Homo sapiens: one gene and its partners. The protein of the gene in region 1 interacts with the protein of each later gene in a pairwise test. Each region holds a gene or a part of one and is shown in the gene's direction. Other genes may lie near its edges. The genes, in order: RHBDD1, NSDHL, PLEKHB2 and GYPC.

What was found.
Region 2: the proteins of RHBDD1 (region 1) and NSDHL interact in binary tests that used the Homo sapiens proteins (3 or more experiments, as listed by UniProt).
Region 3: the proteins of RHBDD1 (region 1) and PLEKHB2 interact in binary tests that used the Homo sapiens proteins (3 or more experiments, as listed by UniProt).
Region 4: the proteins of RHBDD1 (region 1) and GYPC interact in binary tests that used the Homo sapiens proteins (3 or more experiments, as listed by UniProt).

What each region holds. Positions count from the first base shown.
Region 1 is NC_000002.12:226,831,159-226,839,064, forward strand, and holds the start of RHBDD1 (rhomboid-related protein 4), read left to right. Parts: upstream 1-4,895; 5' UTR 4,896-4,929; exon of another isoform or gene 4,930-6,914; 5' UTR 6,915-6,996; intron 6,997-7,906. UniProt on the Homo sapiens protein: Intramembrane-cleaving serine protease that cleaves single transmembrane or multi-pass membrane proteins in the hydrophobic plane of the membrane, luminal loops and juxtamembrane regions.
Region 2 is NC_000023.11:152,861,946-152,869,062, forward strand, and holds part of NSDHL (sterol-4-alpha-carboxylate 3-dehydrogenase, decarboxylating), read left to right. Parts: intron 1-650; coding exon 651-779; intron 780-3,873; coding exon 3,874-4,016; intron 4,017-5,625; coding exon 5,626-5,728; intron 5,729-6,838; coding exon 6,839-7,117. UniProt on the Homo sapiens protein: Catalyzes the NAD(P)(+)-dependent oxidative decarboxylation of the C4 methyl groups of 4-alpha-carboxysterols in post-squalene cholesterol biosynthesis. Also plays a role in the regulation of the endocytic trafficking of EGFR.
Region 3 is NC_000002.12:131,143,246-131,150,362, forward strand, and holds the end of PLEKHB2 (pleckstrin homology domain-containing family B member 2), read left to right. Parts: intron 1-1,162; coding exon of another isoform or gene 1,163-1,204; intron 1,205-3,391; coding exon 3,392-3,528; 3' UTR 3,529-6,600; downstream 6,601-7,117. UniProt on the Homo sapiens protein: Involved in retrograde transport of recycling endosomes.
Region 4 is NC_000002.12:126,687,112-126,694,228, forward strand, and holds part of GYPC (glycophorin-C), read left to right. Parts: intron 1-3,143; coding exon 3,144-3,200; intron 3,201-6,752; coding exon 6,753-6,836; intron 6,837-7,117. UniProt on the Homo sapiens protein: This protein is a minor sialoglycoprotein in human erythrocyte membranes. The blood group Gerbich antigens and receptors for Plasmodium falciparum merozoites are most likely located within the extracellular domain.

The sequences.
Region 1 (7,906 bases):
TATTTTCAGAAAGTTTGTGTATGATGGTATAATTTCTTCCTTAAATATTTGATGGATTGACATCAGTGAATCCATCTAGACCTGGGCTTCTCTTTGTGGGAAGATTTTCTTTGTGGAAAGTATTAAATTTCCGTACTTGTTACATGTCTGTTATGGGTTGAACTGTGTCATCCAAAAAGATGTGTTGAAGCCCTAACCCCCAGTACCTTAGAATACGTTATTTCAAAAGAGGGTCATTGCAGATGTAATTCATTAAGATGAGGTCACACTGGAGTAGGCTGGGCACTTCAGCCTCTAGGAGACAGGCACGTGAGGGAACAGCACATGTGGAGATGCAGGCAGAGACTGAAGTGCTGCAGTTGTAAAACCAAGGAGCACCAAGAAAGGCCAAGGATTGCTGAAAACACCAGCAGTGGGAAAGAGACAAGAATTCTCTCTTCCAGGTTTCAGAGGGAGCAGAGCCCTGCCAACACTTTGATCGAGCTTCATGTCTCTAGAACATGAGATAATAAATTTCTGTTGTCTTAAGCCACCTAGTTTATAATACTTTTTTTTTTTTTTACAACCACCATAGAAAATAAAGTCTTTTTGGATTTTCTATTGAGCCAGTTTTGGCAATTTGTGTCTGTCTAGGAATTTGTCCAATTCATCTGCATTGTCTAATTTATTGGCACAACGTTATTTACAGTCTCTTACAATCCTTTTAATTTGGGTTGGTAGTGATGTACCTGTTTTGATTCCTAATTTTGGTCTTTTTAATTTTTTGGCCAGTTTAATGTTGGCTCATTAATTTTACTGGTTTTTTTTTTTTTCTAAAAAACAAACTTTTGATTTTCATTTTCTCTATTTTTGTTACTTATTTTATTGATTTGCAATATGATCATTATTTCCTCCCTTTGCTAAAGGTTTACGTTCCTCCTCTTTTTCTAGTTTTCAAGGTGGAAGTGTAGATTTGAGACTCTTTTTCTTGGTGTTTAAAGGACTAAATACCCTTTTGATCACTGTTTTAGCTGCAGTGCATGACTTCAATATGTTTTCACTTTCATTCATTTCAAAATACTTTCTAATTTCCTTTAGTACTTCTTCCTTGGCCCATGAGTAATCTAATTTCCAAACATCTGGGGATTTTCCAAATTTCTTTCTATTGTCAATCCCTAATTTAATTCCACTGTAACTGGAGAATGTACTTTGTATGATCCCAATTCTTTTAAATTTACTGAGACTTATTTATGGTCTAACATAAGGCTATCCTGGAGAGTATACTTTTTAAAAAGAACATAAATTCAGCTGTCATTAAGTACAGTGGTCTGTACATGTTGGTTAGGTTGAGAGTCTTGTTCAAGCCTTCTATATACTTAGTGATTTTCTGCCTGGTTGTTCTACACATTATTGTGAGTAGGATACTGAAATATCAAACTACTGTTGTTTGTATATTTCTCTGTTCAATTCAATCATTTTTGCTTCATGAATTTAGGGCTCTGTTACTGGGTGCATATACATTTATAACTGTTATATCTTCTCAATGTATTGACCCTCTTATCAGTATGGAATTTCTGTCTCTAAAAATATTTCTTGTCAGCCAGACGCGCTGGCCTGTAATCCCATTTGGGAGGCCGAGACAGGTGGATCACATCAGGTCAGGAGTTTGAGATCAGCCTGGCTGACATGGTGAAACCCCATCTCTACTAAAAAAATACAAAAAATTAGCCAGGCATGGTGGCGGGCACCTGTAATCCCAGCTACTTGGGAAGCTGAGGCAGGAGAATTGCTTGAACCCGGGAGGCAGAGGTTGCAGTGAGCCAAGATTGTGCCATTGCACTTCAAAAAAAAGAAAAAAGAAAAAGAAATTTCTTTCTTAAAGTCTGTTTCATCTGATATTAGTATAGCCACTACAAATCTCTTATGGTTAGTGTCTGCATAGTCTACTGTTAAGTATTGTTGGTATTATTATCACTATGGTACATGAACCAATTTCTCATTTTTACAGTTCTTAAATTGAGATTTGAATTATTTAATTTGCAAGCTTTTCCATAACTAGAAAGCTATAAATTATCTTATCAGTTTTACACATATTTTGGTACAGTTTTGGGTAAAACAGTAATCAATACTTGGTTCATTAAAAGCAATTAGAAACCCAAACAAGCTTCTCCCTTAAAAAGATAATCCAGTTGTGTATTTGTTGCACGCTGTCGTTGCATGGTATTGTTGCCTGACGTCCTCTCACTTTCAGGCTGGGTTCTGAAATCTGAGAATGACACTTGTCTACCTTCCTGCCAGTCCTGGATTTGTGAACTGTACAAGGGTTGTTACCACCACTCCTCCGCTTATGTGCAAGCACCACATCTTAAAAACACTCATTTAAGTCGGGTGGCTTAATCATAGGTATTGCTGCTTTTCCTGTAAACCTTAGATAAAAGTTAAAATTTATTTTATACCATTCAATGTCTCACATATTATGCACAATGTGCATAGTGCTGCCTCGTCTCATGATTAAGATATATACTTTCCAGCATTTAGAAATCATTGTTTTATATGGTAATGTAGTGATTACGTATATTTTAAGTTAAAGAATTTCTTCTGGCACTGATTCTTTGGTATTTTTAAGCCTTGCTCAGTGAAAGGATGCTGCTGCTGATTGCTTCATATGTTCATATTTAAGATATACAATTATTATCCAAGTGATATTTGTCAATTGAAATGGGATATGAGCATGTTACAACATGCTCATTTCAACAGAAACTTTTAAAAAACCCAGTCTGCTCAACAAATCACGTAGGACAAAAGAGAAGGTCATTTTTTAAAAGGTAGATATTTTTTTCTATCTGTTAAATGTCTTTTACCCCTTAAATGTCTATGAAAATTTTCACTGATATTTGAAACAGAACATAATTACCTAAGAATATTCTTAATCCGTATATATTTCTTACATTTTAACGAAATTATTGAATTGAGACTTCTTGATTTGTGGCTCCCTTAAAATCACCTCTGCATTTGATGTATTATACGGACAAGAAAATGATGCAATTATAGAAAGATGTAGAGAGTGATGGAGAATAGAAGATAAGATTAATATTAATTGAATGGATTCATATGATTGTGGTTCAGAAGGATAAATGAGGACTTCTTCCTTTTGAGAAATTACACATTTCCCCCTCTAGGGAAATACAGAAAATACCTCTATAGGCAATTTACTTTTCCCCGCATTCATTTGACTTTTCATGTCCAGAAATGCAGTTTCTCATTGTCAGTTGAGCTTTTGGAGGAGTATATTGTTTTTCTAGGAAAGAGGTAACTTATGAGTCTTAATGAACACGTACAATTTGCTAAGAATCTTCTTTGTCACTTGAAAGTCATATGTACACCCACACCTATGCATGAGCCACATTTTCACTTAAATTTCAAACTCCAAAATAAATATTTCTATGAAGAGTTTTAATACACAATGGCAAAAGATAAACTCTTCTGGTTTAGGCAGTTTTTGTTTTAGCAGACTATCTAAACACAGCTGCTACAACTTCCAATAAACAAAGAGTAACACTAAACCACCTGTATTCGGATACTCGGATTCCTTCTTGGAAAAAGAGCATCTTTACCCTAGCTATCAGAAAATTCCATACCAAATAGTAAGATTTTTTTTTTTTGAGATAGAGTCATGCTCTGTCGCCCAGGCTGGAGTGCATGGACGCGATCTCACTGCAACCTCTGCCTCCCGGGTTCAAGGATTCCCCTGCCTCAGCCTCCCGAGTAGCCGGGATTACAGGCGCCCGCAACCATGCCTGGCTAATTTTTGTATTTTTAGTAGAGACAGGGTTTCGCCATGTTGGCCAGGCTGGTTTTGAATTCCTGACCTCCGGTGATCCGCCCGCCTTAGCCTCCCAAAGTGCTGGGATTACAGGCGTGGGCCACCGCGCCAGGCCTGTTGTTGTTTTTTAAATAGAGACAAGGTCTCACTATGTTGTCCAGGCTGGTCTCAAACTCCTGAGCTCAAGCGATCCTCCTGCCTCGACCTCCCAAAGTGCGGGGATTACAGGCGTGAGTTACCGCGCCCGGCTGTAAGATAGTTTTTTCATATCCTATTAAATATATATAGCATTGCAACATTTAACTTAGCCTAACTCCTACAGCTAAACATAAAACTTGCTCCCGAGTAGCAAACAATTAAAATGGTATCAAATTATGTATTAATCGAAATTCTATTAACTGAAATATGAAACACCTAAAGCCCTCAAAATGGGCAAACGTTGCGTGGTGCAGTCCCAGACCCAAGCTTCTGGGAGTGAAAGGTGCACCCGCGACCTTGCCTTGCTGGCTGGCTCTGGGACTCTGCGATAAGCCGCCCTCCGGTTGTCTGCGATAGCTCCTGAAGCAGGAGAGTGTCTTTCCCACCCTCCGCCTAACAGGCGGTATCTGACCCTTCCAGGCAGCAGCTCCCCAGCCTCCGGCTGCGCTGGGGCCCGGAAGGACGAAGCTTCCCGGCAGAGAACCTGGGCAGAGGCGTCCGTTGGGTAGGCGGCCGCGACCCGCTCGCTGCTTCTCCCCTAGTCTTCGGGTCCCTTGAACGCAGGTCGCTTGTTTGCCTTACGCGTAGTCAGCGGCCAGTGGCTATTTATGGCAGTAAGGAATATTATCCACATTTCACATGGAGCTTAGAGGACAGGGCGAGGGTCCACACTCTCCTTACTGCGCTCTGCCGCGGTCCTGCCCCGCTGTGCCCTCGCGGCCCCCTTAGAGCCACTGCCGGCGCACGCGGTCTGCAGACAGCAGAGCGCGGGCGCGCACAACTAAGCATGCGCCGCGGCCGAGCCGTCCGCTTTAAGGCCCTCCCCTCCCGCACCCGGCCCCAGGAACCCGGGGCGCCCCGGATCGGGAACGTGCGTGATGACGCACGTGCGCGCGAAGACGTGGGGACGCAGGCGGGTCGTAGAGAGCGTGAGTTTCCGCGTCTGTTTGGTCCGGCTGCTGTCGTTGGTTGTGAGCGGCATCTCTCGCCGTTTCCCCGGGCTGCGGGAGCTGGCGGCCGGGCTGGGGCTGCTGGGCGGAGGTCGGCGCCTCCCGGGGGGCTAGGGCGAGGGAGGCATGGCGGGGCTGGAGGCACAGCCTCCCCGTCCGGGGCAAGTCCGAGAGCGGGGAGGGCGTTTCCTGGGGTAACTCCACCTGGGGTCTTGTCGAAGTTGCCGCATCTCCGCCGGACCGCACGGGAACGACGTGCCCACACTCGGAGGAAGGGGTTGGCGCTGAGCGAGTTTAAAGGGTTCCTTTTGAAAGCAGGAAGTTTGAAGTGACGTTGCATCAGCAACAGAGCATGCAGTTTCAGGTGCTCTCGGGACAGCTTTCAGTTTCTCAGAACAAGTCTAAGCCTCACCGCAGTAATAACTTTTATTAGAGGACAAAAAATCCGCCAAAGTAAACCCTTTCTGTCCAACCCCTAAAAACCTTTGGATAAACGTTTACAAGAAACGGATCACAGCCTTATTTGTTTTTCTAAACTGAGCATAAACTCTTTTGAAGACTCAGCGTTACTGTCAAAATGAATGAGTGCCTGCCTAGTTATGATTCAATTATCGAGGTGTTTGGGTCTCTGCAGTACACTCAGTGACTCCCAGGCTTTTCTTTTTTCTCTTTGAAATTGCTTATTAGAAGGCTTTATCTAATTTCTCACAGTTGTGTGTCTTTTTGAGGTAGTTCTAATAAACTTTAAAGGCTTCTGGTTTGCTGCAGGCCTGCCGTCGCTGTGGAAAGCAAGTATTCTTTCAAAGAAGAATAGAAGTGCATTGGTTTCTAAATAATCCCAGGACGCTAGGATCAGCATCACTTGGGAACTTCTTGGAAATGCACATTTTGGGGTCTTATCCCAAACTTACTGAATCAGAAATATATTTTAACAAGCCTTCCAGTTGATACCAATGCACCTGGACGCTAAAGTTTGAGAATTAATGGCGTAGTGATAACACCCATTGTGGAATCACATATAATGGAATTTGAATTGAAGTAATTCCTAGATGGAAAAACTTGGACATGTTACCTCACAGGGCTGGAATATGAAGATGCAAGAAAAATGTTTAACACAAAACACATAGAAAACCCTCAAAGATGTTATTAAGTAACTTATTAGAACTGCATAAAATAAGTACATAGTTTGTGCTGGAAGGATTCTTCAGCGGGGTAGATATGAGCTGTAGCGCATGGATATTGGGACTGCTGCTTAGAGGGTATTTTGTTTACCTCGGGATTCTCAATTCTGTGTAGTCAAGGTTGTTGGATGCAGGATATTCAGTTAAAAGTTAAAGCAGTGCATACTAATGCTATTGTGGTTGTAGGATTTTTAAGAATAGCATTAGTATTTATGTTGAAGAGTAGTTTTTAATTCTTTGGCCTTCTGATCTCTTCAGCTTTGTTTGGAGACAGTCTCTTTCTGCCACCCAGGCTGGAGTGCAATGGTGCAATCTTGGATCACTGTAACCGCTGCCTCCAGGGTTCAAACGATTCTCCTGCCTCAGCTTCCCAGGTAGCTGGGATTACAGGCGTCTGCCACCACGCCCAGCTAATTTTTGTATTTTTAGTAGAGACGGTTTCACCACGTTTGCCAAGCTGGTCCCGAACTCCTGACCTCAGGTAATCCACCTGCCTCGTCTTCAGTTTAGTTATACCTTCTTTGACCCAGAATTTGGTAAAGACCAGAGGTAAGCACTAGTTTTAGAGTTGAGAATTATTGTAACATAGTGACTTGCAAGCGAAAGCCAAGGCTGAATATGTTTCTGTCCTTATCTTTGTTTCCCATATGTCGTACAACTCCACGGTAGCAAAGATCTCATGTCTACTCTAGATACCTCCATTTTCAGGAAGGATCACAGGAGTGCCCTCAACCTGCTGTGTTTTTTAGATGCAGTATTTTCTTACAACTTTATCTCTTTCAGGGGTCCATTGTAGGGGGAGAAAGAAATATTCAGGATTTAAAGCAGCTGCTCTAAAGGCTACATTCACTGCAATGTTGAGAAGGTCAGTGCCAAACCGTGGCCTACACATGTCGTTTTGATGAGAGCACGCTGCTCCCAAGGCTATACCATGGCTCCTGGATATTGAGAGAGTTTTCAGATAAACATAAGTCACTTTGAATGGATTATTCTGGAAATAATTTCGTTAGCTCTGCCACCAAATTGGCACTGCCCCATCATGAAATGTTTATTTTTCGAAGGCATTAAATATTTTTTTTTGTTCTCCTCATCGGAGAGGCAGATCGCTATCTGTGGTTTTAGGTCAGACAAGCCCTGCTCTGAATCTTGCCTCTGCTACTTAGTGATTGTGTACATTAGACAAATTAACATCCTCCCCACTTGAATTTCTGTAAAGTAGGAGTCATAGGATGTGCTACTTCAGGCCATTGAATTAAATGAAATAACGCATAAAACACGTCCACCTTGTTTTAGGCACAGAGGCTCAGTAAATGTTGTGTGTCGGACAAAGGGAAAAAAGGTATTTGTTGTCTCAAACCTAACTTTATGCCATTCATTTTATAATATTTTTATAAATGAGGTAATTTTATTACCTAACTGCACTGCTTTTCTTTTTAACCATAAAATGCTGAAATGGAGTCAAAGCTTTCATATTATTGTGAATGAGAAAAAACAAACACTTGAAAAAAGTTGAAACTTTAACGTGAAAAAACACCATCTTCAGTTTTATCACTGTAACAGAGCAACTTGTAGAAATTGTTTTGGATGTTTACAGCAAGGTAAACATCCAAAGGTCAGGGGATGAGTAATAAAGTATCTTCTGTTAGTTAATGGGGACAGTCAGCTAGAGAAGGGGACACTGTTACAGGAAATGAGACCTCGTTGAAGGTATGCATCAAAGGATGAGAAAATGCTGTTAGCCCTGAAATTGCTAATATTTTTTTAAAACACGAATT
Region 2 (7,117 bases), on another chromosome or scaffold:
AAATTCGTGTTTATCTTACCCTACCACTCTGGCTAGAGCTTCTCATACAATGTTGAATAAGAATGGGAACGATATGATTCATGCTAATGGTGTTCAGTGTTGGATGAGCTTCTCTTAACCAGCAGGCTGGACGCTGGGGACCCTCATAAGAGAATATCTTCCTTTAGAATAGCATTTCTTAAGAGGTCGTGTGGTGTGTGTATTCCTATGTGTGTTCACATGGCCAGGTCACTATCAGAATAGCCAGTGATCTTTTTCAGACATCTTCCTAGAAGTTTGCGGGCTGCCCTTCACTTACAACAGAGAATCGCTGTCATAGTGAGATACCATGAATGCAAGTCTATTCTATCTCTCAGGTGTGATGGGATAGAAAAAATGTGTTATCCCTTGTTTTGAAACCAAGATCTCTTGATTCTTGGTTAGAATGTAATACATAGTGTGTCTGGAATCCACATAGCTGCAAAAGATGGTGATCTTTGGATTATTTTAAGAAGGCATGAAAAGCAAAGGCATTGCAGCAAATAATTTCTTCAGTGCCTCGAATGCGAGGGCAACAAAGGGATGCCCCTGATTCTCTTTCATACAGGATCATGCACTGTTTGAATTGTGATAATTTGTGACTTTTATTTTTTCTGACCTTCCTCTGTCAGAAACTCATTTTAACCAGCAGTGCCAGTGTCATCTTTGAGGGCGTCGATATCAAGAATGGAACTGAAGACCTTCCCTATGCCATGAAACCCATTGACTACTACACAGAGACTAAGATCTTACAGGAGAGGGTATGTACCTTGGAACTGGTTGAGTGAGCAGACTGAAGGGTTTAGAATCCTAAGAAAAATGTTTATGAACTTATGAAGTTTGTATTCTGAGGCCTACGTACCTGATTTGAGATGTAAAATTTGTGGGTGAAATTAAATTTAAAAATACTGTGAGAGGCCGGGCACGGTGGCTCACGCTTATAATCCCAGCACTTTGGGAGGCCGAGGTGGGTGGATCACCTGAGGTCAGGAGTTCGAGACCAGCCTGGCCAACATGGCGAAACCCCATCTCTACTAAAAATACAAAAATTAGCCCAGCATGGTGGCAGGCGCCTGTAATCCTAGCCACTTGGGAGGCTGAGGTATGAGAATTGCTTGAACCTGGGAGGCGGAGGTTGCAGTGAGCCGAGATTGTGCCATTGCACTCCAGCCTGGGGGATAGAGAGAGAGAGACGCTGTCTCCCAAAAAAAAAAAAGTTACTATGAGAACAGCTTTATGTGGCCAGACACTGTTCTGAGTGTTTTCCAGGAGTATTTTCCTTGTTTAAAGGTCACAATTATCGCATCATCACCAGATTATAGATGAAGACTGTGGTGCACAGATGCACAGAGAGGCTCAGAACCTTTCTAAAACTGTGCAGCTAGGAGGTGGCTGACCCCAGGCAGTCTGTCTACAGAGCTTACAGCCCACCCTCAATGCCATGGGAGCTTCCTCGCCTGCTATGGGAATTTACAGCAGTTGCAAGCGTGCAGACAGGAATCAGGCTGGAGGCACCTTCCTAGTGGCACTCTCACCCCCTCCCTTACTTAGAAAAACAAACAACGGAAGGATCTTGCTTTATTTTAAGGAAAAAGTACTTTTCCACTTGGCAAAACAGCTTCATCAAAGGGCACCTGATTTTAGTATGGTTGGATTCAGCCACGGTCGCTACCAAGCCTTCAGGCTGCTGGGGCTGTGGGGCCCCTGACAACTGCTAGCTGCAGATGGGGATTGTCACCCTGAGGCCATCCTAAGCTGCAGGCCAGGAGTGCTCCTGAGCCTGGGATAGCTCGTCTTAGCTGGGTAGCTGTGAGTATACCCCTCCCAGGTGTGTGCAGTGTATCACACCCACTGAGGTTTTCTCGCAAAGCCGGTACATGCTGTACTGGAGCTGAACACTGACCTGGCTACCTGAGAGCCAGCTGCCTCCTGGCTGTTTGCCGTATTTTTTTTTTTTTTCTTTTTTGAGATGGATTCTCACTCTGTTGCCCAGGCTGGAGTGCAGTGGCACGATCTCGGCTCACTGCAACCTCCACCTCCCAGGTTCAAGCGATTCTCCTGCCTCAGCCTCCTGAGTAGCTGGGATTACAGGCGCGTGCCACCATGCCCGGCTAATTTTTGTATTTTTAGTAGAGACGGGGTTTCACCGTGTTGGTCGGATGGTCTCGAACTCCTGACCTCATGATCTGCCCGCCTTGGCCTCTCAAAGTGCTGGGATTACAGGCGTGAGCCACCATGCCCAGCCTGTCTGCTGTTGCTTCAGCTCAGAAAGTCCTGGCAGAACTGGTCCACAGGGAGACACAAGGGCCACCCAGACCAGGGGTGGAGGCTTGAACTTTGGCAAGCCACAGTCCTGGCTCCAGACTATGCTGTCTTGCTCCTTGGAGCACTCATGTGCTCGAACTTGGCCCAAGGAGTACTAAAGCCTCCCTGCGCCTTGCAGGCAGTTCAGTCACCATGGAGACCCTGTGTATTCTCAACCCAATATGCCTGATACTGATTGCCACCAGAGCTGAGCCCATCTAGGCTCAGGAGCTTCAAATGATGGCCTTGGCCCAGACCATCAGTGTCTCGCTTATATCAACTTTTGGGTTCTCAACTGGAAATAAGCAAAGCCTGCAGATGACTCCAGCAGTAACTCACCGGAAGCCTCCTTTCAGCCGAGGTTGACATCCACTGTTGGCTTTATAACCTTCCTACTGATCATAAACCAAATGTGATGGGGAGCTAGGACTCCTTCACCTCTCTTCCCTTTAGTAGTAGAGATGAGCCTTGGTGGAAGCCATTTGAGGGTTTATTTAGTCATTTCCTCCATCGCTGTGGGGACCAGAGTCCTGGCGGGAAGAGGAGGGCCAGCTCTGGGAATCTGTTGAGAGGCAGCTTTTCCATTGTTGAGTTGCTTAAGATCACTGGGGCCAAAACATAGACCAGCACTTTGCTACCATAGAGTAGAAGAAACCCGAGGTGACATGACAGCAGGAACCGTACTTACCAAGCATACAGACACGCACTGAAGCAACTCACATGGGCCATCTCGTGTAATTCGCATGCAGCCCCGTCAGGGTAGGTACCTTTATGATCACCACTTTTACCCACGATAAAACAAATCCTTTGGAAAGTTTTGTTACTTTTGAGGCGAAACCCATTTCACTGTGCTTTAGACTCTTGAGTTCTAGTTTGTCCATGAAGTCACACAGAAGTCACCCTTTCCTTGCGGTGGCAACAGGAGCACTGGCTCTGGACCAGGCACTGCTCTGAGGACTTTACATGTCTCGGCCTCCTTTGCCCCCCAGCTGCTGGCCTGTTTCTCCCCAGGCATGGTCTTCAGACCCTTCACCTTCTCTGACCCTCTTCTGGGCCCACTTGGGTTTCTCAGAGCCCTCCCCTCGGAGGTGATACTCAGAATTGCCTGGAACAGACCCGGCCTGGTGGAAACGTGGGCGGCACATGCAGTTCAAGTCACTGGAGGCTCACGGCTAACTTGTTTGCCAGAACCTTTGGACGTTTTCCACAAACTGCTGCCGAGGCATGTCTTCTGGCAGTGTTGGTGGATTTTAGCCTTTGAACGCAAACCAGGGCCTTCTGATTTGATCTTACCAGTTTTTGCCCAGCTGTCTGTCCTGCATTTTCAGATTTTGGTGTGAGGGTGGGTGGGGTAGAGAGGTAGCCCAGAATTATACCAGCCACTGATGTAGGTTGTCAGCTCAAGGCAGACCACTGCTCAGTGGCCACATGCCAGCAGAGTGTGTCATCTGTCTGTCCCCCACGAGTGGTGCTTCTCACCCAGCGAGGCACTCTCTTGGCTTGGGCCTAGGAATTTGCAATGGACGTGCCCCTTCTCCCACTCTCCTCCAGGCAGTTCTGGGCGCCAACGATCCTGAGAAGAATTTCTTAACCACAGCCATCCGCCCTCATGGCATTTTCGGCCCAAGGGACCCGCAGTTGGTACCCATCCTCATCGAGGCAGCCAGGAACGGCAAGATGAAGTTCGTGATTGGGTGAGTCAGCCCACAGCGGCTCTTCCCTAGTCCTTCCTGGTCCATGCTCGCATTCAGAGAGCACTTGGCAGGAGCCACATGGCATTGTAGCTCTTTTCTTATGTGACTGTCTTGGTCCATGCAGGCTGCTGTAACAAAATACCTAAGACTGGGTAACAAACAACAGAGAGCTTGGAGGCTGGGAAGTCCAGATCAAGGCGTTCCCAGACTGGGTGTCCATTGAGGCCCTGTTCCTCATGAGTGGCACCTTTTCACCATGTCCTCACATGGTGGAAGGGGCAAACAGGCTCCCTTGGGCCTCTTTTATGAGGACACTAATCCCATTCCCGAGGGCAGAGCCCCCATGACCTAATCACCCCCTAAAGGTCCCTCTTCACAGTACCATTGCACTGGAGGTTAAGTTTCAACATATGAATGTTGCGGGGATGCAAAGATTCAGGCGATAGCAGTGACCTTGTCCGCTGTCCTCTGTATTCATTTCTTGTAGTTGCCATAACAACCTGCCACAAAGTAAGTGCTTAAAACAACAAATGGATTCTGTCACATTTTGGGAGGCCAGAAGTCCTCAGTTAAGATGTTGGCAGGGCTAGTGTCTTCTGGAGGTTCGCAGGGAGCGTCTGTTCCAGGCCTCTGCCCTAGCTTCTGCTGGCTTCCAGCCATCCTTAGCATTCTGTGCTTGGAGAGGCATCACTCCTGCCTCTGCGTCCCTTTCACATGGCTGTGTTCCTTGCTTTCTGTGTCCAAATTTCCCTCTTATAAGGACATCATTCCCTGGATTTAAAGCCCACCCTACCCCAGTATGAGCTCAGCTTAACTAATTGCATCTGCCGAGCCCCTATTTCCAAATAAGGTCACATTCACAAGGCCCAAGTGGACAGAAGCTTTGGGAGGATACTGTTCAATCCAGTGTACCCTCTCAGGTAGGCTGGGAAGGTATTTGTGACCCTGTTTGGAAATTGAAGAAACCGTGACTCAGAGGGAAAGCAATGGGCCCCGGGTCAAAGGCCAGGGCTTGACTGTCCTTGCATCTGGGAAGGCAGGCGGGGGCATTACTTTTCTCCTCGGGTTAAGTGCAGGTGGAGGGGCCTCCACAGGGGACAACAGTGTGCCTCTCTCCCAAATAGGCTTTCTCTTCCTTCATTTCCTCCTTTTCTCCTCTCTCTCTTCCTTCCTTTTTCCCTCTGCCTTGCCTTCCTGTTTCTCACTCAGCCTCACTGCTACCCTGACTTGTCACCTTGAAGGATTACAGGGAGACTGGTCAATAAACGGAGGACCAGAGCAAGGCGTTGGCCCCGTGTCTCCTGGGAAGGGGCTGAAAAGCTGCTACCCAAATCGGGACAGGAGAGACAGCACCAGTGTTGGCCATGCTGGAATGGGTGGGCAGGTCCCCCAGCTTTCAGATTCCACTAACCCTGAAGACCCAGGAGTCCCGGCCCAGTGTACATCTTTAACCAGTACAGGCATCCATGAGTGCCTGGGCCGGCCTTGCCAAGTGAGGTGGCAGCCATTCTGTAGGTCACAGTCTCTCAAATGCCAAGACTTGGGAGTGGCCCTGGCCTTCGTGCAGGGGCTCCCAGCACGTATTCCATCATCCCTTGTGCACCTGCAGAAATGGGAAGAACTTGGTGGACTTCACCTTTGTGGAGAACGTGGTCCATGGACACATCCTGGCGGCAGAGCAGCTCTCCCGAGACTCGACACTGGGTGGGAAGGTAAGGCCTGCTGCACCGGTCCCTGCACAGGTGCCTTTCTGCGGGTTTCTTCTCCTTGCCATTGGATTTGCTGGCAAGTTGCTCCTGTGATCCTGTATCATGGAGGATCTGCCTTAGGACCCCCTGTGCCAAGATCAAGCCCCTCTGATAGAGCATGTGGTGTCACTGCAGCGTCACATCACTTGGGCAGCCAAATTTGGAGAGCTGACGAGCTGGGATTGAACAGACATTCAGGTCACGGTCATCTATGGTCCCCTGACCTGGCTGCCCACCTGTTGGCATGGCTCCTTGTGGCAGGAGCCCACGTAGATTGGGCAGGGTGCTTGCTCCTCACCCTTTCTCCCACTCATTCCTCAGGTCTCTCCCTCCCTTGCTGTTTGGTCCTCTTTTATTCTCCTGAACCTCTGCCGTTTCCCCACTGATAACCTTCAAATAAGTTGGGAATAGGGTGGGTGTGGCATTTTTTTTTTCTTTTTTTTTTTTTGAGACAGTCTCACTCTGTCACCCTGGCTGGAGTGCAGTGGCGTGATCTCGGTTCACTGCAACCTCCGTCTCACTGGTTCAAGCGATTCTCATGCCTGAGCCTCCCGAGTAGCTGGGACTACAGGCACATGCCACCACGCTCAGCTAATTTTTTGTACTTTTAGTAGAGACGGGGTTTCACCATGTTGGCCAGGCTGGTCTCCTGACCTCAGGTGATCTGCCCGCCTCTGCGTCCCAAAGTGCTGGGGTGACAGGCGTGAGCCACCGCGCCTGGCCCGGGTGTGGCTTTTGATTTAAAACAAGCAGAACACCGTCAAGAAATGTAATATGAGGAATTCATTGCATCCAAAGATATGTAGATGAGTTTTATGATGATTAACAATTATCAAATTAACAAATGTGCCTTTCCAAGTGCAATCTATGCTTCATTTAAAATCCTGGCCCATAGATGAAACTTTCATTGTCTGCCCTTTCTATGCCTTAGCAGTTGTGCAATTGAGGGCAGGCCACGTGGAAAGCTGCAGCAATTAGGCAGTGAGAATGCGATCTGCACGGGCTTAATAGATGCTTCAACTTTGGGCAGGTGGGGGTGGTGTTTCTAACTTCTTGTTCTTGTTCTCCCGCCAGGCATTTCACATCACCAATGATGAGCCCATCCCTTTCTGGACATTCCTGTCTCGCATCCTGACAGGCCTCAATTATGAGGCCCCCAAGTACCACATCCCCTACTGGGTGGCCTACTACCTGGCCCTCCTGCTATCCCTGCTGGTGATGGTGATCAGTCCTGTCATCCAGCTGCAGCCCACCTTCACACCCATGCGGGTCGCACTGGCTGGCACATTCCACTACTACAGCTGCGAGAGAGCCAAAAAGGCCATGGGCTACCAGCCACTAGTGACCATGGAT
Region 3 (7,117 bases), about 96 Mb from region 1:
ATTGTAAGTTGAGGAGCATCTCTGTTAACATGTCAGAAGGCATAGACATTTTTGACGGTTTTTTGGGATATGATTTAAAAATGTAAACGTTTTCAAACATAAAAAATAGGGATGATGGTATAATGAACTATCATATGTCCATCACTGGCTTCAGCAGTTAACCATATCATGTCTAATCTTTTATCTCTACCTCAGCCTCCTTTCTCTACCTCTGGATTAGTTTAAGGGACATCCCAGATTTTTAATCATTTCATCTGTTAATATTACATTAAATCTGGATAGCATTTTGCCAAGTTGATCCCAGAATGGTTTACCAACTTATAATGCCACTAGCAGTTACTGATGCAGTGGTTTATCTGTGATCCCATAAAGATGGCCTGTTGTGCTCTAAAAGTTTTGATAGCTTCAGTAGGTCTCAAGTGGAATCATCGAGTTGCTTTAGTTTATATCACCTTTTATGAATAATTTTCCTTTGCACATTTTTCTGTTGGGATCCCATGGGATGGAGAGTTTTAAGCCCTAGCCTTGCCACATGAGAGCCAGCCTCTTTCTCAGCTTCCAGCCCACAGAATAGGGCTGTTGCCGCTGTTTCTTACTGTATAGAGAGCACAGATATTGCAGACGTGGTTGTTTAGGGCACTTCTGGAAATGAGTCCATCCTTGCCCTTGGCTCTCGTCAGTAGAGTAGAAGTAGCACTCTCACAGGCAGTACTCGGAATGCTTGCCGCCCACATAAGGGGCTGAGTCAGTAGGCATTATGGCCAGCCTGCCTCAGAGTGGTGACCAGGCAGCCCCCAGACTTGCTTGCTGTGGAAGGGTCAAATGGGTTTGTGGTCGATACACAGCAGCTTGTGTTGACAACCAGATGGGTGCTTTGCCACCTCCATGCCATCCTGTCTGCCAGGGTCTCACTGCCTAGAGCTAGTCCACAAGAACCCTCCTAGTCATGCACAGAGCTGGTTAAGGCTCTCTCTTCAGTGTGATTGGGACCAGTGGTTGGTCAGCCAATTGAGAAAGTACAGAGTACTGTAGACGTATTGTAAACATTGTGCTGTGATTTAACCCGCTAGTGGGTGTTCGTTCGGCTCTCCTATAATGTGGGGTTGAGGTGTTTGCTTTGAGTTGGCTCCTTTGGTTGGAGTCTTCTATTTCTGTCTTGTAGAGACCATCCTCATGACACGTCATTGCACTGCAGTTTCCAGGGGTAAGTCCAAGAGCAGACTTCTAGATTTGGGGACTATAGTCCTCCCATCCTCCCATCTTTTATAGTTTTCTTAATTCCCTGATTTGATGGTAATTTGTAAAAGTAACCTTCCTTTATTTAGTTTTTCCTGTAGTATCTTAGTTGCCATAGAAACTGTGTCTGCCTTTTTCTCATTCACATTTTGACCATTTATGTAATATTAGTTAAATTAGGCAATTATAATAAGTGTGACCTGGAAGCATCCACAGCTGACTCTGGCAAGGACTGAGCTCAATGCAGGAGCAGAGCTCAGCAGGAGCCACAAGAGAGTGGCCTGGTCCTGCAGCCAGGGGACCTCAGCATGACTTGCAGGGGCATCAGAATGTAGATTTTCCATGGGACCTTTTCATTAGGTCAGCTCACAAGTTCTATTGTGTTACATTTGGCTAGTTGGAGTTAACATTACTGAGCATTTTAAAATGTCAGGGCTGTGAAAGTAAATGCCGTAATTCCCTAGTTTTGAAATTTAAACATTGCAAAAATAATCACTTGCTTCCAGTACTGTTACCTGTACCAGATCAGCCCTTAGATTTACGATGGTTTCATTGTACTACTCTGTGCCTTTTGAGTTTTGTCATTCATCATCCTCTGTTGTATTTGAGGCATTAGTGGGTATAAATGCATACTGTAGCCAGAGTGCCTGGGTTTGTGTGCCCTTACTGTCCTTAACTGCTGTGTGCCTCAGTTTGCCCATCTGCAAAATAGGGATAAAAGTGCACTCAGTTGAGTAAGAGCATTCCAATGTATGTAGTGCTGTAAGTGGCTGGAAATGTTCACCTTTGTTACCACTGCGGGTTTCACTTCTGCTCTTCATCCACATGTGCACATCACTAGTGACTAGTTTTTTTTCTTTTCTTTTTTTGTGTGTTTGAGACAGAGTTGCACTCTGTTGCCCAGACTGGATTGCAGTGACAGGATCTCAACTCACTGCAGCCCCCGCCTCCCAGGTTCAAGCAATTTTCATGCCTCAGTATGGGATTACAGGCATGCGCCACTACCCCTGGCTAATTTTTTTTTGGTAATTTTTTAAGAGACAGGGTTTCACTGTGTTGGCCAGGCTGGTCTAAAACTTCCGGCCTCAAGTGATCCACCTGCCTCAGCCTCCCAAAGTGCTGGCATTACAGGTGTGAGCCATCAAGCCTGGCCAGCCAGCCTTTGAACCATTAAAGGAATAGAGGATCAAGGAGGAAAGTTAACGCTATTAATACCTGAGCAGTTTGAAAGCTACTTAGCTACTAGGCATTATAGCTGTGAAGCATGGAAGAGAGCAAACAGTATATTTCCAGTTGTAAATTTTAATCTTGCAAATTAAATACTAAATTTGTCTGTGGTTTGTTTTTTTGAAGTTTTCACCTCTAACATAAATATTTATTTTTTCTCTATAAAGACATGCAGTAAAAAAGAGTAGGCCGGGCCGGGCGTGGTGGCTCATGCCTGTAATCTCAGCACTTTGGGAGGCCGACGCGGGTGGATTACGAGGTCAGGAGATCGAGACCATCCTGGCTAACACGGTGAAACCCCGTCTCTACTAAAAATACAAAAAATTAGCCAGGCGTGGTGGTGGGCGCCTATAGTCCCAGTTACTCAGGAAACTGAGGTGGGAGAATAGCTTGAACCTGGGCGGTGGAAGTTGCAGTGAGCTGAGATCATGCCACTGCACTCCAGCCTGGGGACAGAGCAAGACTCCTTCTCAAAAAAAAAAAAAAGTTATATGTGCAGATTTAAGGCTTAATTTAAAAATTGGTTTGCGTGCATACTAAGAAGCTCATTTGCTTTAAGTGAGCATTTCCTTTTTGGGCTTTTGTTGGGCACTGTGTGTCTCCCATGTTCCCCATTTGTCTGCCACCCAATAAGCATGGTGTCGAGGGCTGAAGTAGAAATCAGAGGCTAGAATCTGAAAGCTTCATTAGGGTTCTGCTTTTTGCAGATTAGGGACTTTGGCCCTTAGTGAGCTGAGGATCTTGGTTTCCTCCCAGTGTGCGGTTTCAGGGATGTCGGCCACATGATGTGCCTGTTGTGGAGGAGGGCTGGGTCGCCAGTGTGACAGGAGACAGCAGATCCCTTTTGTGAAAGGAGAACTGGTACTTTGCGTGATGTTAAACTTCACAAACCGCTGCTCAGAAATCTGCTATTTTCCTTCTCTTTTAGGACTTTATGGACAGCAGCCTGCTAACCAAGTCATCATTCGAGAGCGCTATCGAGACAACGACAGCGACCTGGCACTGGGCATGCTGGCAGGAGCAGCCACGGGCATGGCCTTAGGGTCTCTATTTTGGGTCTTCTAGGGGCCTCAAGGTCTTGATGTGCATAGCTTCTGATAACCCTGTGTGCAATAATATGATTTGCAGGGCATTTCTGTTTGTGACAAAAGTTTTTAATAATAGTTTTAATCATTCCTTTGAAAGTAGTGATGTCATAATTGTACTAATCCACATAAGTACCACAGAGAAGGGTTTGAACTGTGCTATTTTGTTCAAATGTTGACTCTCCGGGGGCACTGGCTCATTCCAAGACTGTTCTTGTGCAACTCTCAGAATACCTTATTTGAGCATACCTGTTTTGAAAGGCATTTTCTTTTTAGAGTTAGGTGTAGTGCTTAAGGGTTAATTTATTTTCATGTTATGCCAGTAATATAGTGTTGTATGCCTATTGAGTGATTGTGGCAAGAAAAGCTACAGCTTCTTTGCGTTTAACTTTTTCAAACCACAGACCAGAACTGGTTGCATGTTACTTTAGGAGTTGTGGGTTGGTAAGCTCCCAGGTACTTCCCGAGGCTATGGTGTGAGAGCCCCCGTCCTGCCCTCTGGGGCTCCACAGGCCCCTGGCAAGGCCGATGGCTCAGGATGATGGGGCACAGCCCGCCTTTGAACAATCATGCTTCAGAAATCTGCCTGACCCTAGCTGCTGCTGCTGCTCACTTTATTCTTGTATGGCTTTGGTAGGCATACTTGGAGAACATATCCCACATTAGGAATTGATTTAAGCCTGAGAGTTTGAGGGCTTTAATCCTTTAAAACTTGGAGAAGCTGGCTGGGCGCGGTGGCTCACGCCTGTAATCCCAGCACTTTGAGAGACCGAGGCGGGCGGATCACGAGGTCAGGAGATCGAGACCATCCTGGCTAACACGGTGAAACCCCATCTCTACTAAAAATACAAAAAATTAGCTGGGCGTGGTGGCAGGCGCCTGTGGTCCCAGCTACTCGGGAGGCTGAGGCAGGAGAATAGTGTGAACCCAGGAGGCGGAGCTTGCAGTGAGCCAAGATAGTGCCACTGCACTTCAGCCTGGGTGACAGAGTGAGACTCTGTCTCAAAAAAAAAAAAAAAATCCTGGAGAAGCCAGAACAATATACAAACAAGTATGTGGAGGCAGATTTGCTTTATTCCAAGAGGCTGTTTGAGTGTGTGTCTGCCTAAGCCTCCTTATAGCCTATTTTTCTACTTGCTGAGAGAGTAATATTAAAGGAACAGTGAGGGAGTGGAAGGAGAGCCTTAGTTAGAGCGTTCCCATTTCTGGCCTTTGGGGGTTTGCACTGTGCGGGAGATGCTCTCTCATCACTCTGAAGGCCCATCCTGTGCAGAAGTGGGACTCTGTGGCTGTTCACTGAGCACCAGGGCAGACTGTAGCTGAGCAGACTTGGGTTATGGATGGGATATGGGGCCCAGGGACCCTCAGGACACAGGGACCGGCTCAAGGTACCACTCAGCCTGGCCAGGACCCCCAGCTTTGCTTTTGTTCTTGATCTCTTTGTGATAGAGAAGCTTAGAACATTGAATTTGGAACCCCAAAATGTGTGAGTCTTTGGAAAACCCATTCCAGCCTTTCTTCAAATGCTCTTATTTTCAGTATATGAAGTGTGTATTTGAAATATTCATATTTCTGTTATTTCTTGTTTTCAAGCTCTGAATTATTGCAGTTTTCTGTCCTGCATGCTTTCAACAGTGTGCTTTTACAGTGGCAGTTTAGCACAGCGAATGTCCCTGCCCCACACTCCATATGGTCCTGTTTTCCTGAAAATACACTCCAGGTAGCACAGACTTGTTATTTTGCCTGGCTGGTTACACACATGCTGTCTTGCTTTGCTGCTCAGCCACCTCCCTCTGAGGCCAACTTAGGCCAACCTACATAGGACTCCATCTTTAGCGAGACACCAGAGACACCTAGTGATGACCACGGGTCTGCTTTTCTCTCTGATCCTAGGGGACTTGTTGACATGGGAGTGTCTGTTTCCACATGGAAGGATGTCTGTTTATCTCTCATCTCTGAATAGATGTATGACAACTCTAGTGTCCATGGTTTAAAATGTTGCTTTGAGGATTTTCCATCCTGTATAAGAAGAATGGCTTTCTTCAGATTATAATCGTTATTAAAGCTGTATGTACACTTTACTTAAAAACTATTAACAGTTTTTCATGTTGCACTGGTGGTAATTTTGAACTTGGAATTACTGGGTGGGAATTCCAGGAACCACAGAGTATTGATTTTTGCTGCCAAAATGCTCTTGAAGCAGATGTCCCTGTGCTCCCCTGGCTGCTTCTGGCTGAAGGGGGGAGGTGTAGACTGAAGCTTGGGCACTCATGTGTGTCCCCTCCCCAGTCCCCATCCTAGTGGGGCCAGTCTCATTAGGCAGCCATAGATAAGCCTGGAACTTGGCTGTCATTAGTGACTTGATCCTGGTATGAAATGCATACTGGGTATAAGGTTGCTCAGGTATTTTATTTCCTTGGCCACAACTCCCATAGATGCCAATGTTTTGATAGCCTCAGTTTCTCAACGATGTCTTTTGTTTACAGTGCTACACTTAGTGTGAGTCAAGAAGTGCTTGAGTTACAAGAAACTTCTTATTCAGGTTTGAGTAAGCATTTTACTTCCATGTGTACTTTTAAATAATCCATACCTTGAAGAAGTTGGCCAATGATATTATATACATGCTGATCTGATTGTTCTTTTCATTCCTTGAGTCAACTTCAGGGTCTTGGATACTAAAGAGAAGGAGAACTGTGGTTAATGTTTTGGATCATCATTTGTGAACAAGGCCAGACTTTGCCCATTTTAGGCTATCCAGGACTTAAGGTAGCCATCTGGATCATAAGAAGGTCCTGCAGTTGAGACAAAATGACCCAAGTGTATTTTCCACAAGTTTTGATCCTGTGTAATATTTCTTTTTCCTTCCCTAGTGTATGTAGATACAAGGCATGGAATGCAGTTCCACTTTCTCCCCAGAGTTGATCTTTTTGTGATTGCTTTCCCGTCTCTAGTAGTATTCTGTTGTGTCTAGAGAACTGATTTTTTCCTACATACGCAAATTGTACATTTGTAAGTGAAAATGTCAATACATTAAAGCATTAACCTTAAAGCATGTTTCATTGTGACTTCTGTTGTCTTTAAAAAATTACTTTGTAGTAACATACTCTCAGCTTTTTCTGCTGTCCTGGATCATAAGAATGCCATTTATTGAGGACCTACCAAATGCTAGTATATTGTCACATTAGAGACAACTCACTGAATTCTTAGTGACTCTGTAAGGGAGGTATTATCCAAGTTCCACTGGAGGGACCGAGGCTCAGAAGTTAAATAATTTACTCAGGAGCGTGCAGGTAGTAGGTCTCCACATCTGATGTTAAAACGCCTTGTTGTTCCCTGTGCCGTGTGCATATGAGAATTTGATTTCCACAAACAGCAGTGGCCCGTGCAGTCACACTCTTGGGATGGCTGTGAGAAAACGGACACTATTTTTCCCAACCAGATCCCTCTGGCAGTGTGTGTCCAATAACTTCTCCAGCATCTTTGGATATATGACTTTTTTGTTTTATTTATTTATTTATTTATTTATTTATTTATTTAGAGACGGAGTCTCACTCTGTTGCCCATGCTGG
Region 4 (7,117 bases), about 100 Mb from region 1:
CTTCCGGAGCCTTGGAGCCGTGGATGGCAAGCAGACACTGGGGAGAAAGCTGAGAAGTGGGGAGAGCTGCCTTAGATGCTGAGCTCTCTGCCTGGAATGCTTATAGGCTTTGTGCAGCAAACTCCTATTTGCCCTTAAAGGACTAATCCTGATGTCACCGCTTCTGGAAGCCCTCTTTACACCAGCACTTCCCAGCCTACAGCATGAATCAGAATCTACTATAGTAATTACTGGGTCCCAGTCCTAGTGTTTTTCTTCAGTAGGTCTGGGCTGGGGCCTGAGAATTTCTATTTCTAACAGGCTCCCAGAGGATGCTGTGTATCCAGAGACTATGCTTTGAGAATTGCTGTCTCACAGCATCCACACCTTCCCAGACAGCCTTGAGCTTCCTCTCTATGCTGATTCTGATCTATCAATATAGGGCAGCTCTGGTTGGGCTGAAATGTCACTCCCCTGGAGTCTGTCACATTGTGAAACATGTGTAAATTCAGCTCCACACACTTGGTGGGGTGGGGGGCATGGAGAGAGTAGTTCCAGCTGAGGGAACTTTCCTGCCCACCACGCTCCTCAGAGGGCATGAGCTTGGAGGGAGCCCACATTGGGAGGCCCAGCTGGCAATCCCAATGGTCTCCCAATGAGGCCCCGAAGCTCTCAGGTCCTACCTCCCCTCCCAGCCTGGCTGCCCTGCTGGAAGTGTGTGTAGTCTCCCAGTATACAGATTTGAGTACAAGGTCCCTAACCAGAAGCCAAGAAATGCACCCCAAGTTGTTCAAGCCAAATATCTCACCTGGAAACCAGCTTACCAAGGCTCTACACTTTGCAGTGCCCTGTAAGGCTAAACACACTGACTCAAGGCTGCCAGGGCTTCAAATGATTGACTTCTGACTCTCAAGGTACAAGCCGGGGAAAATAACACTTTTCTGGGACGCAGCTGCCAAATCTGGAAAATGGGGCTAATAATAACTCCTATCGAATGGAAATGTTGCAAGGTCTGAGTTAAAATACATTAAATGTTGAGAGCAGCACCTGGCATTTAGTATGAAATTATTAACTGTTTTAAAGGAAGGGAAAATAACAGTCCCTTCTAACCCTGATTGTGTTGGACAAACTGTCATAAGAAATGCTGGTCTTTACCTGGAAAATTTCTAAGGGCAGTTCTGGGTATTTGAGCTTCTATAACCATCCATGCCTACTTAAGCAAGATGTTATTCTTTCTTTCCGAACTTTGAGGTGCATAGTGGTTAGAAAAGTCTAGAACTCCACCACTAAATCCATTCATTTATACATGCATGCATTTACTCATGCATTCAGTGAATATTTATTGAGTACCTACTATGAGCTAGATACTAAATTGGAGGCTGCACTTGTTCACTGTAATAAAGTCTAGCACCCACTTGAACTTGCTATGGCTCCTGCTTCAGGTCTTGCTACTGAGAAGCACTGTGAATGCTGGATCCTCTACCCTGCCTGGTTCCTGGTTCCCAAGGTGCTGACTCCAGACCCAGAGTTCACTGGGTCTCTTGGCGGCCTCAGTGCCTTGTATTATCTTCTTCCCCACCTCCAAGCTCCTTGGTGGCCCCAGACACCACTAGCTTGGCCCACCTGCTTCCTGCTGTGGACCCCTAGCTGGGAGTCTGTTTTCCCCTCACCCACTATGACTCCTGACTCCAGCAGGCAGTTACTTATAAGAAAGAGGCATCTGGCAGCTGCACTGGGGAGAATGACCTCATAGCACTATAATTAAAGTGATCATCTGAGTGGAAATGACTATTATGAAGCATCCTTCTCTGTTTTATTATGTAGAGCCATTGTAATGGGAATACGGGATTTCCTATGTTAATGCTGATATTTCTGTGATCCAATAAATCCTTCTTCACAATCATCTCCCAGAGGAAAGAAGGCATTCTGTGCAGCAGCTCTAGGAAACATCAGGTCCCCAATGTCCTAGACATCCTACCCTCTTTGGCCAGGCCATTAAGCTGTGAAAAAACACACTCAGTAACTTGGATAATGTCATAGAGTGGTCCTTCCCACAGCAGAGTCAATGTAAAGACCTATGGGAGGGCTTCAGGAATGACTCCTCAGACAGGAGCCCTGGGAAGGGCTTCTCCAAGAGAGAAAGTGCACTCCAGAGGCAAGAGCACTGGCCAAGTCCTGACCTGATACCGGATGAGCTGTGTGATCATGGGCACATCACGTCTCTGAGCCTTGGTGTTCTTCCTGTGAGATGGGCCAATAACACCAGGCACCTCATAGGATGGATGTGAAGACTGCATGATAGAGTAGATAGAAGGCAGTTAAAGCAACACCTGGTGCTATGGTTTGGATGTGGTTTGACCCTGCAAAAGCTCATGTTGAAATTTGGTTCCCAAGGTGGCAGTGATGGGAGGTGGGACCTAGTGGGGGATAGTTGAGTCACAGGGGCAGATCCCTCATGCATACATTAATACCCCCTTGAGGGAGGGAGGGAGTTCTAGCTGTCGTGAGACTGGATTAGTCACTGGAGAGCAGGTTGTTATAAAAGCAAATTCAGCTTTCTAAACTCTCTTGCTTTCTATATCACCTTGTGGTCTCTTTGCGAATGTCAGATCCCCTTCTGCTTTTTGCCATGAGTGGGAGCAGTATGAGGCCCTCACCAGATGCAGCTGCCCAATTTGGACTTCCCAGCCACTAGAACTGTGAGCCAAACAAACCTCTCTTCTTTACAAATTACCCAAGTATTCAGCTATAGCAACTCAAATTGGACTGAGACACCTGGTGTGAGCATCAGACACTCCACAAACATTCTTTCTTAAACACAACAAGAGTCCCTGCCTTCATACACAGCACAGATATCTGTTGAGCATCTACCACATGCAGGCACCACTCTCAGTGGAGGCATACTGCAGAGAACTTAAATGGGCCTGGAGTGACCTGGTGGTTCAGGTTCAAACAGTTCCATCCCAGTCAGTGACCAAGCAGAACCTGGTTCCTGGTCTGTGCACCCCTGCTAGGAGTCGGTGGGTGCACCACACTGTCTCTGTCCACTTGAACCCATTCTCAGAGCTGCTCACACCTGAGCAAAGGATGCAGCTTGGGCCAAGGTGCTGCTAGGCATGGAGAGTCTTCCTCTCTGACCTCAGATTCTTGTCCTCTGTTCACAGAGCCTGATCCGGGGATGGCCTCTGCCTCCACCACAATGCATACTACCACCATTGCAGGTGAGTTCTCATCACAGAGCCTCACCATAATGGAAACTGCCGTGACTTCAGATGAGCTCTCATCACAGAGCCCTTTAAGCAGCCAGGGTTGGGGGACTTGGTGAAAACATCCAGGGGAGAACTGACCTAAGGACTTGGACAGGGGTGGCTGTGGCCATTTTTTCTCTCCCTCAGAGGTGGTTTTGAATGTGGAATGGAGGAGTCTACCCCTGGGTAAATAAATATACATAGGTATGTCATATGTATCTGTATTTATATTTATTGGCCTTTCTCAGGGCTGTTGACTCACAGGAACTCAGGAGCTGGAGAGGCAGCAGTTTTGGTGAGGGAGGTTGAGGGTGGAGGTGAGATGAGGGTAGACTGACCAGGCTACTTAGACTTCTCCACCGTCTCCCTCATCCCACATTATTTTCTTCCCTGGGTCCATGACCCCCAACCCTCCATCCTCAAGGAAACTTGAGCCTGCCTTTGCCTTGCTTTGAACCCTGAGCAACGGGCTCCCCATGGGTCATGGCTGTGACTGCAAACTGTGTTTGAAGAACAACCAAGTTTGGGAGGTGCTGTGTGCTCTGCGACCTTCTTTGAGATCCACACTTCTCAGCAGCTTATTAATAACTCAGGAAACATCTACAATTTGAAAAGAAAGAAAAAGCAGCAGAAGCAAGCAATCAAAGACACCTGTTGGACTCTGTGTAACCTGGCATTCTCCAACTCATTGCACCACTGAGCTTTTATTCTTCCTAGGTGATATTATTAACATTATGCAGATACAAGTGTTCCCCTGAAGGCAGTAGGAAGTTTAGGAAATTGTTCTATAAAGGTGGGACTTGGGAGCAGTTTCAGACTTTCCATATTCTTCAGCAGTCCCTCCCCAAGGCCTCCAAATAAACCTGCATTCTAAGAAAAGACAGAGGCTTGCTCTGCAGCTTCAAAGTAAATGCCCAAACTCAAAACACCCCCACCCCATGAGACTGCTGCCCCCTCACTCTCAAGGTCCTGAGTGATCTGACCCCTCCTGAGCAGCCTTACACTGTACTTCCCCACCCCTCTGGAGTCCCAGCAGAAGTGAGGGGTGACTGCCCCTCGCACAGCCAACACCTTGGCATTCTCTGCGTTACCCTCTCCCACTTCAGTCCTTTGTGTGGCCAAGTCCTGCTCCTCCTGCAGACTCACCCCAGTCCTCAATCGCCAGGAGGGAATGGGAGCAGGGTAGGCTGAGGAGCAGTCATCGGGCCATTGAAAAACACAAACCACACAACCTGCCCCAAGCACAGTTAATAGCCTCATTTTTCCCCCTGTATAGTGTACATACAGCAACCAGCTCTGCCCTGTTTTCTGGGACTTCCCTGGTTTTAGAATGAATAATCTCCAAGCAGTGTTCTTGCAACTGTTGCAAGGACCATGTTAAATTGCTTTAAATGTTGAGACCTGCACCTGGCACCTAGTAAGCGATTGTTAGTTGTTTTAAAGGAAGAGGAAATAACAGTCTCTTCTAACGCTGATTGTGTTGGACAAACTGTCCTAATAAATGCTGTCTTCACCTGGAAAATTTCTGAGGGCAGTTCTGGGTATTTGAGCTTCTATAACCATCCATGCCTACTTAAGCAAGGTGTTATTCTTTCTTTCTGAACTTTGAGGTGCTTGTTGATTGGAAAAGTCTAGAACCCCACCACTAAATCCATTCATTTATATATGCATGCATTTACTCATGCATTCAGTGAATATTTATTGAGTACCTACTATGTGCTAGATACTAAACTGGAGGCTGCACTTGTTCACTCTATATAATAAAGTCTAGCACCCACTTGAACTTGCTACGGCCCTTGCTTCAGGTCTTGCTACTGAGAAACACCGTGAATGCTGGATCCTATACCCTGCCTGGTTCCTGGCTCCCGAGACCCAGATCCTGAGCCAGTGTTCACTGGGTCCCTGGGCTGCCTCAGTGCCTTGTATTATCTTCTTCCCCACCTCCAAGCTCCTTGGTGGCCCCAGACACCCCTAGCTTGGCCCATCTGTGTCCTGCTGTGGACCCCTAGCTGGGAGTCTGTTTTCCCCTCACCCATTATGACTCCTGACTCCAGCAGGCAGTTACTTATAAGAAAGAGGCATCTGGCAGCTGCACTGGGGAGAATGACCTCATAGCACTATAATTAAAGTGATTATCTGAGTGGAAATGACTATTATGAAGCATCCTTCTCTGTTTTATTATGTAGAGCCATTGTAATGGGAACGTGGGATTTCCTATGTTAACACTGATATTTCTGTGATCCAATAAATCCTTCTTCACAATCATCTCCCAGAGGAGAGAAGGCATTCTGTGCAGCAGCTCTAGGAAACATCCCGGTCCCCAATGTCCTAGACATCCTACCCTCTTTGGCCAGGTCATTAAGCTGTGAAAAAACACACTCAGTAACTTGGATAGTGTCATAGAGTGGTCCTTCCCACAGCAGAGTCAATGTAAAGACCTATGGGAGGGCTTCAGGAATGACTCCTCAGACAGGAGCCCTGGGAAGGGCTTCTCCAAGAGAGAAAGTGCACTCCAGAGGCAAGAGCACTGGCCAAGTCCTGACCTGATATCGGATGAGCTGTGTGATCAAGGGCACATCACGTCTCTGAACCTTGGTGTTCTTCCTGTGAGATGGGCCATTAACACCAGGCACCTCATAGGATGGATGTGAAGACTGCATGATAGAGTAGATAGAAGGCAGTTAAAGCAACACCTGGTGCTATGGTTTGGATGTGGTTTGACCCTGCAAAAGCTCATGTTGAAATCTGATTCCCAAGGTGGCAGTGATGGGAGGTGGGACCTAGTGGGAGATATTTGAGTCACAGGGGCAGATCCCTCATGCATACATTAATACCCCCTTGAGGGAGGGAGGGAGTTCTAGCTGTCGTGAGACTGGATTAGTCACTGGAGAGCAGGTTGTTATAAAAGCAAATTCAGCTTTCTAAACTCTCTTGCTTTCTATATCACCTTGTGGTCTCTTTGCGAATGTCAGATCCCCTTCTGCTTTTTGCCATGAGTGGGAGTAGTATGAGGCCCTCACCAGATGCAGCTGCCCAATTTGGACTTCCCAGCCACTAGAACTGTGAGCCAAATAAACCTCTCTTCTTTATAAATTACCCAAGTATTCAGCTATAGCAACACAAAATGGACTGAGACACCTGGTGTGAGCATCAGACACTCCACAAACATTCTTTCTTAAACACAACAAGAGTCCCTGCCTTCATACACAGCACAGATATCTGTTGAGCATCTACCACGTGCAGCACCACTCTCAGTGCAGGCATTAGGCAGATAACTCAAATGGGCCTGGAGTGACCTGGTGGTTCAGGTTCAAACAGTTCCATCCCAGTCAGTGACCAAGCAGAACCTGGTTCCTGGTCTGTGCATCCCTGCTAGGAGCAGTGGGTGCGCCGCACTGCTCCTTTCCACTTGGACCCATTCTCAGAGCTGCTCACACCTGAGCAAAGGATGCAGCTTGGGCCAAGGTGCTGCTAGGCATGGAGAATCTTCCTCTCTGACCTCAGATTCTTGTCCTCTGTTCACAGAGCCTGATCCAGGGATGTCTGGATGGCCGGATGGCAGAATGGAGACCTCCACCCCCACCATAATGGACATTGTCGTCATTGCAGGTGAGCTCTCATCACAGAGCCCTTCAAGCAGCCAGGGTGGGGGGCCTTGGTGAAAACATCCAGGGGAGAACTGACCTAAGGACTTGGGCAGTGGTGGCTGTGGCCATTTTTTCTCTCCCTCAGAGGTGGTTTTGAATGTGGAATGGAGGAGTCTAGCCCTGGGTAAATATATATATACATGCATACATCGTACGTATCTATGTATGTATTTATTGGCCTTTCTCAGGGCTTTTGACTCACAGGAACTCAGGAGCTGGAGAGGCAGCAGTTTTGGTGAAGGA